Linked DNA regions of Homo sapiens. The protein of the gene in region 2 purifies or fractionates together with the protein of the main gene of each other region. This does not show direct contact. Each region holds a gene or a part of one and is shown on either strand. Other genes may lie near its edges.

The links.
Region 1: the proteins of LGALS3BP (region 2) and FBXO45 purify together in Homo sapiens (co-immunoprecipitation; 4 studies listed by BioGRID and IntAct, with this or other methods). This does not show direct contact.

Annotation. Positions count from the first base shown.
Region 1 is NC_000003.12:196,571,660-196,575,159, forward strand, and holds part of FBXO45 (F-box/SPRY domain-containing protein 1), read left to right. Parts: intron 1-3,500. UniProt on the Homo sapiens protein: Component of E3 ubiquitin ligase complex consisting of FBXO45, MYCBP2 and SKP1. Functions in substrate recognition but also plays an important role in assembly of the complex.
Region 2 is NC_000017.11:78,973,840-78,976,923, forward strand, and holds part of LGALS3BP (galectin-3-binding protein precursor), read right to left. Parts: intron 2,318-3,084; coding exon 2,126-2,317; intron 981-2,125; coding exon 849-980; intron 1-848.

The DNA.
Region 1 (3,500 bases), on a different chromosome or scaffold from region 2:
AAAATGTTTTCCTTTCATCCTTGTCGCTCAGCTACCCGGTTCCTCTCCATGTATGCAACCTGTCTTACTTTTTCTTTTGTATCCTTCCAGAGATATTTTAGGTTTCTGAGGTTTTTAATACTTTGCTTTTCTGCTATGTGCATTATAGATGTTGTAGACTTGTACCAATCACTGTTCATTCACACATTGTAGGACTTCCCTTGAATATTTTGAGGATAAAAGATTAATTCAAAAGGAGTCAAATAGTCTAGTAGGAAATCTTTCAGTCTAGTAGAGGAGAGAAAAATGTATAGAAAGAACTGCTAATGTGTGGTAGAAATTGCTCCTTACTGTTACAGACATAAAAAAGTATACTAGAAGTTCAGTGAAAGGAGGAATTTACAAACTGAGTGGAGGATTGGAGGAGATTTGAGGTTGAGCTTATATTTGAGCTGAATTTTAAAGATGAGGAGGAGTTTAGTATTTTAGGAAGAGGAAGTACTCTGAGCAGAAGCAGGACAAGAGGAAAGTAAAGGGTTTGTACAACATATATTTTTATTTAAAAAAATGAGTGCCAGGCACTATGCTCATTTGCAGATGCAATGGCAAATAAAACAAACACAGTCTCTTAATGGATGTCTTGCCTTATGGAGCTTACAGTCTAGTAGGGGAAATGGATATTAATCAAATAATCACACAGATGTAAAACCGCATCTGGTAAGTAGTATGAAGGAAAAATACCTAGTGCTCTGATTGTCAGTAGTGGAGGATTTAACCTGGTGGAGAGGTGAGGGAAGGCTTTCTCAGATCCATGTACTGAGACCTGAAGGATGATAAGTAGGCAAAGGGGAGAGAGAACAGCCTTCCAGGAGGGAACCTTATGAGTGTGAGGGATGGAAAATATGTCAATGTGGCTGGAGCACAGAGAGCAAAGGTGATGCTGGTTTGAGATAAGATGGAAGAAGTGGACTGGGACCAAAGCGTAGGGAAGCCATTTTGAGTTGTAAGCAAGAAGGATTTGAGGTGTGGGGATTGGTGATATGATTATTTTGCATTTTAAGAGATTATTTCTGACTTTAGTATGGAGAACTAAATTGTTGGTTGGAAGAGGACCTTAGAAATATGGTAGATCAATTAGGAAATAGGTAGTGGAGGAGATAGAAATGGGCAGATTTAGTAAGTAAAATCTATAGAATTGGCAATAGATTTGAAATAGGGATGAGGAAGAGGGAAGTGGTAAGGATGACTCCTAGTATTTGGCTCACATAATGTAGAGATCAGTTGATCTAGATTTTTTTTTTGAGATGAGGTCTTGCTCTGTTGCCCTGGCTGGAGTGCAGTGGAATGATCATAGCTCACTGCAGCCTTGAACTCCTGGGCTCAAGCGATCCTCCCACTTCAGCCTTCTGTGTGGCTGGGACTACAGGCATGTGCCACCATGCCCAGCTAATTTTTATTATTATTTTTTTTTGTAGAGATGTCTCATTATGTTGCCCAGGCTGGTGGGCTAGGTTTCGAAGAAATGGCAGTGAGTTCAGTTTTGGGAGAGCAGCATTTACAGTATTTTTGAGACAGAGATTTCCAATAGGCAGCTGTTGGAGGTTGGAGCTTAGAGGAGAGATCTGCGCTAAAGATATAAAATAATATAGTTAGATTGAATGAAAGGAAGTAGTGGGAAATATTATAAAGCTATATTATGGGACTAGATATATCATGGAGGGCTTTGAAATATAGCCTTCAGTCTATAGTTTGGGTTTTGTACTACAGTTGTAAACCATAGAAGTTTGAACAGCAGAGTGACAAAGGCTCTACTTCAAAAAGACTAGGCCATAGATGAGTTGGAGAGGGCAGCGGTTAGTGCCTATACCAGAGATACTTAAGACTGGAACAGGTACATCGAGGAGAGAAGGGGATGGCTGGAGAGCTGTCGTAGAAAACAATATACATAGGTAGACAGCTGACTGGGTGAATGGGATGAGGAAGATGGATGTGTCAAATGGATTTTCCCAGGAGCCTGGATAACAGAGAATGATAGGAAAAGGTTTAGGGATAGCATAGAACAGGAAAGTGGAGTTTATTAATCTGTTCAGTTGTTTTTTTTTTAAGTTCATATTTTACATATCACCCCGTAGCATTAATTATTTAAGTCATACTTGGCATCTGATGAGAATTCTCTAAAGTTCAGACTTAGATTTTAAGCTAGGTCTTCATGCTGCTTTTGCCATAACAAAATTCAGGTTGTGCATGGGAATGTGAGGCTATGGGTTGTTTTTAATTTATTAATTTGGTCTTTATTTTCCTTTTTTTTTTTTTTTTTGAGACAGAGTCTTGCTCTGTTGCCCAGGCTGGAGCGCAGTGGCACAATTTCAGCTCACTGCAACCTCTGCTTCCTGGGTTCAAGTGATTCTGCCTCAGCCTCCCAAGTAGCTTGGATTACAGGAGCCTGCCACTACGTCCAGCTAATTTTTGTATTTTTAGTAGAGACAGGCTTTCACCATGTTGGCCAGGACGGTCTCGATTTCTTGACCTCGTGATCCGCCTGCCTCGGCCTCCTGAAGTGCTGGGATTATAGGTGTGAGCCACCATGCCCGGCCTATTTTCCCATTTCATATGAAGTTTCCAGTATCTGTTTCTAAAAAGTAAAGACACTTAATGTAATCACAATATGGTTATCACATCTAAATATAAATGTACATTAATTCCTTAATATCAAAAATGCAGTGTTCAAATTGCCAGTTGTCTCATAAATGTTAAATGTTGCATTTTAAAGTTATATTTTATATAATCAAGATCTATATAAGGGTCCCATGGCAAAGGTTGATATGTCTCTTAAGGCTATTTTAGTCTACATATTCACTCACCATCTCCCCAACCTCCCACCTTATTTGTTGAGGAAACAAGGTGGTTTACTCTCAGCTCGATTTTGCGGATTTCATTATCATCGTGTTGCTTGACATGTTCTTCTGTCCTCTATTTCCTACTGAGGTGTGATCAATTTAGATTAGATTAGATTTTTTTTGCAAGTTATTTTGTACTAGACTCAGTGGTTAAAAGTGTGTTAGAAAATAAGAGCTGCTAAATTGTTACGTGGCACAGAAAGTGGTGGGCAAGCACCCGGCAGAGAGAGACATCAAGGGAATTGGGTGGCCCTGGTTAAGAATAGCTTAATAGAGGTGATCTTAGAGAATGTGTGGGAGAAGAAAGCACATATAATACTTTCAGCAAGAAGAACATCATCAAGGTAGAAAGGGAAATAGGAAGAATCAGATTTGGAGGGCTGTGAAAGCCAGGCAGAAGAATTTGCAGTTGGTGATGCTACTAAGTATGGAACTACCAGAGGTTATAGAACTGGGATGAGATATGTAGTAAAGGTGCTGTTTTAGAAAGACAGGTTTGGAAATAATTCAGATAGAGAGTTGAGGACTGAGTTTGGAGAATTTGGTTGGGGCAGAGGAAGGGTGGTCACCAAAAAAGGAAATGATACAGGATCAGTTCAGGGAAATAGGAAGATGTCATAGAAG
Region 2 (3,084 bases):
AACCAGGTGGGCTTGCCCTGGGCCTCCTAAAACCTGAGCCACCGCAGGACCCCCAGCTCCCTCCCACCTGCACGCCTTACCACAGCTCTCCTGCCCCAGGAGCTTTGGCCGTGCGCCCATGGCCCCGTGTGCTCCCCGCCGCCTCCCCTGGCCCCCGACAGCCCCATGGCGTCTCCTGGGCTTCCCCCACTGTGAGTCCAGGCTCAGCTCCAGCCACTTGTCCATCCCATGTGGGCACAGGGGCTCCCTGGGATTCGACCCGTCCTGCCTTAGGGGCCTCCAACTCCTGGCAAAGGGCAGTGGGCAGGAAATGCCCAGGTTGTCACGTGCAAGCCCAGGAAGAGCCACCTCGGCATGAAAGAAAAACAAGAAACTCAGATCCAGAGGCTCCAACCTGCAGAGCAGCCTGGGTTCCCTCCAAACTGGGCCAGGTTGGGGGAAGCAGGCTGAGGCTGCGAGTAGCCGGGACTCCCTCCGCCAGGACGGGCTTGAGCCTGTCGCGTGCTGTGAAGTGTATTTCTGAGCGGACGCTGGCATTTCAGGTCAGGCTGGAGCCAGGTGTCATGCTCACTGAAACTGTGGCTCACTGCCCCACACTCGGGTTCTGCATGGAGACTTGGTGGTTCTGGGTGTTTCTCCAGAAGGGGCTGGGGAGGAGTCTGGGACTGTGGGACTGGGAGCTGGTGGGCTCTTGGGACGTCTGGGCCTCTCCATGCGGAGTGGGCAGGCGGTAGTGGAAGGAACCTTTGTGTGCTTCATGTGCGTGGGGGGGTGGTGCTGGGAGGGGCAGGGGCCACGGGACCCCAGGGCACACTGGGGCCTCCGCAGGGAGGTGCGCCCCCGCTCACCATTGGTGCAGACCACACCAGCGTCTCTCTCGTGCCTGCAGTTGCTCTTCAGCCAGCCCAGGGACTTGCAGTCGGCCAGTGAGGCCTCGGTTCCCGTGCACTGGACCTCATCCAGCATGATGGGGCCTGATCCTGTGGACACAGCAGATGGCAGGGCTGGGGGCGTGACGACTGCACCCAGGAGTCCCACAGCGCGACTCAGCCCTTTGTTCTCCGCCCCGGCCGTGTGGGTCCATCTGCTTACAGGTCCTTCACCAGCGAACCACGGAGGATATTCCAGCATGGGCTGGATTTGTGATTGCAATGTCAGGCCATAAACTTAGCCTTCATGCTTATAAAGCTTACCGGCTGCTTCAGCGACATCACATTCATGTATAGTAATTGTGTGACTATCCCTGCAACATCAGTTTCACATACTGTAATTGTGTGACTATCCCTGCAACATCAGGTTCACATACTGTAATTGTGTGACTATCCCTGCAACATCAGGTTCACATATTGTAATTGTGTGACTATCCCTGCAACATCAGGTTCACATACTGTAATTGTGTGACTATCCCTGCTGCTAAATAGTTTATGGATTGTTTCTTTTTTTTCCAGAATCGCAACTGCTGTGTCAGTGGAAATCTTCCTGCAGACTTTTCTTTTGAGGAGAAATTGTTTCAATGGGATAAACTCCCTGGAGTGGAGTTTCTGGGCCGGAGGGAACGAGCCCAGCCGAGCTCTTGAACCTGCCCAAGCACCCGCCACCATCACTGGCCAAGTGTGGGTGGAGCAGTCCCATCAGAACTTGATCCGCAGGCCTTCAGCACCATTGAAAATGTTTGCTCATAGGCCGGGTGTGGTAATCCCAGCACTTTGGGAGGCTGAGGCGGGCGGATCACTTGACACCGGAAGTTTAAAAACCAGCCTGGCCAACATGGTGAAACTCTGTCTCTACTAAAAAATACAAAAATCAGCCGGGCATGGTGGCAGGTACCTGTAATCCCAGCTACTCAGAAGGCTGAGACAGGAGAATCACTTGAACTCAGGAGGCGGAGGTTGCAGTGAGCCGAGATTGTGCCACTGCACTCCAGCCTGGGCAACAGAGCGAGACTCCATCTCAAAAAAAAAAAAAAAAAAAAAAAAAAAAAAAAGTGTTTGCTCTTGCTAAATTAATAGGAATCCAATTTGCATGTCTTTGAAACCTGACTGTTTCGTCTTAGGGGATTTGCCCCTCCTGGGAGCTGGCTGTGCTGTGGGTCTCAGCCTCAGTGGAAGGGGACAGCAGGCCCTACCTTGCCCGAAGGCAGCTCTGCCCAGAGCCTGGGTGGCGTTCTCGAAGCCCAGGGCCCGGCAGACGACGCTGGCATCAGTCAGGTCCCACAGGTTGTCACACACAGTGCCCCACTGGCCTCTGTAGAAGATCTCCACGCGGCCCTGGTTGGTGGCGCCCCCATCGGCCAGCCGCATGTCACCATCGTTCACGCCTGCAGGCAGAGACCAGCGAGGGCGAGGCTGGGGCCTGCAGCACCCACCGCCCACACCTCCAGGCCCCATATGCTGTCCTGGGTCTCCCCTGCTGAGCTTGTATTTCAGGGCTTCAAGGTCCCCTGGCCTCTCCATGAGGGGCACCTCCATGAGGGAGGAGTGGAAGATACATACAGCCCCCCCTACCCCGCAAGGAGGCCAAACTCGCCTTTCCTTGTTTTAGGGGTCTCAGCCCTTCACTCCATAGACAGAACAGGGGCAGAGAAGCCCTGAGTTCTCCAGCACTGGGAGTGGAGGTGGCAAGACCCTGAGGGAAGGATAGGAGGGGAACGGAGGCCCCGTGCTGACCCGCCCTGCAGAGGGTGTCTGCAGTTTGGGGGTGCTGGCCTATGGGGGCAGCAGGCCTAGGGACCCCTGGGAGCACAGGCAGAATGTTTCCAGGGCAGATAATGGGATTCCCCCGCCCCACATGTCCTTCTGGGACTCAGTCCACCAACACTCCAGCCCCTACAGGAGCTGACAGAGCCGGGCAGGAGCTGGGTGCCTGAATCCAGTCGGGGGTACATCTGGCTTCCATGGGGCCCCCAGGATGAGCATGAGCTTCCAGGGGCTCACAGTGTAAAGAATGTGAGGAAAAGCAGCCAGGACCCTCTGGAAGACTGACCTGCGTCCAAGGCCACTGACCTCACAACGGCCCCTGTGACTGCTGGTTTGATCAGCCCCTCTGGTTCCCTCTGGACGGAATGGAGGATTCCCTAGTGTCCTC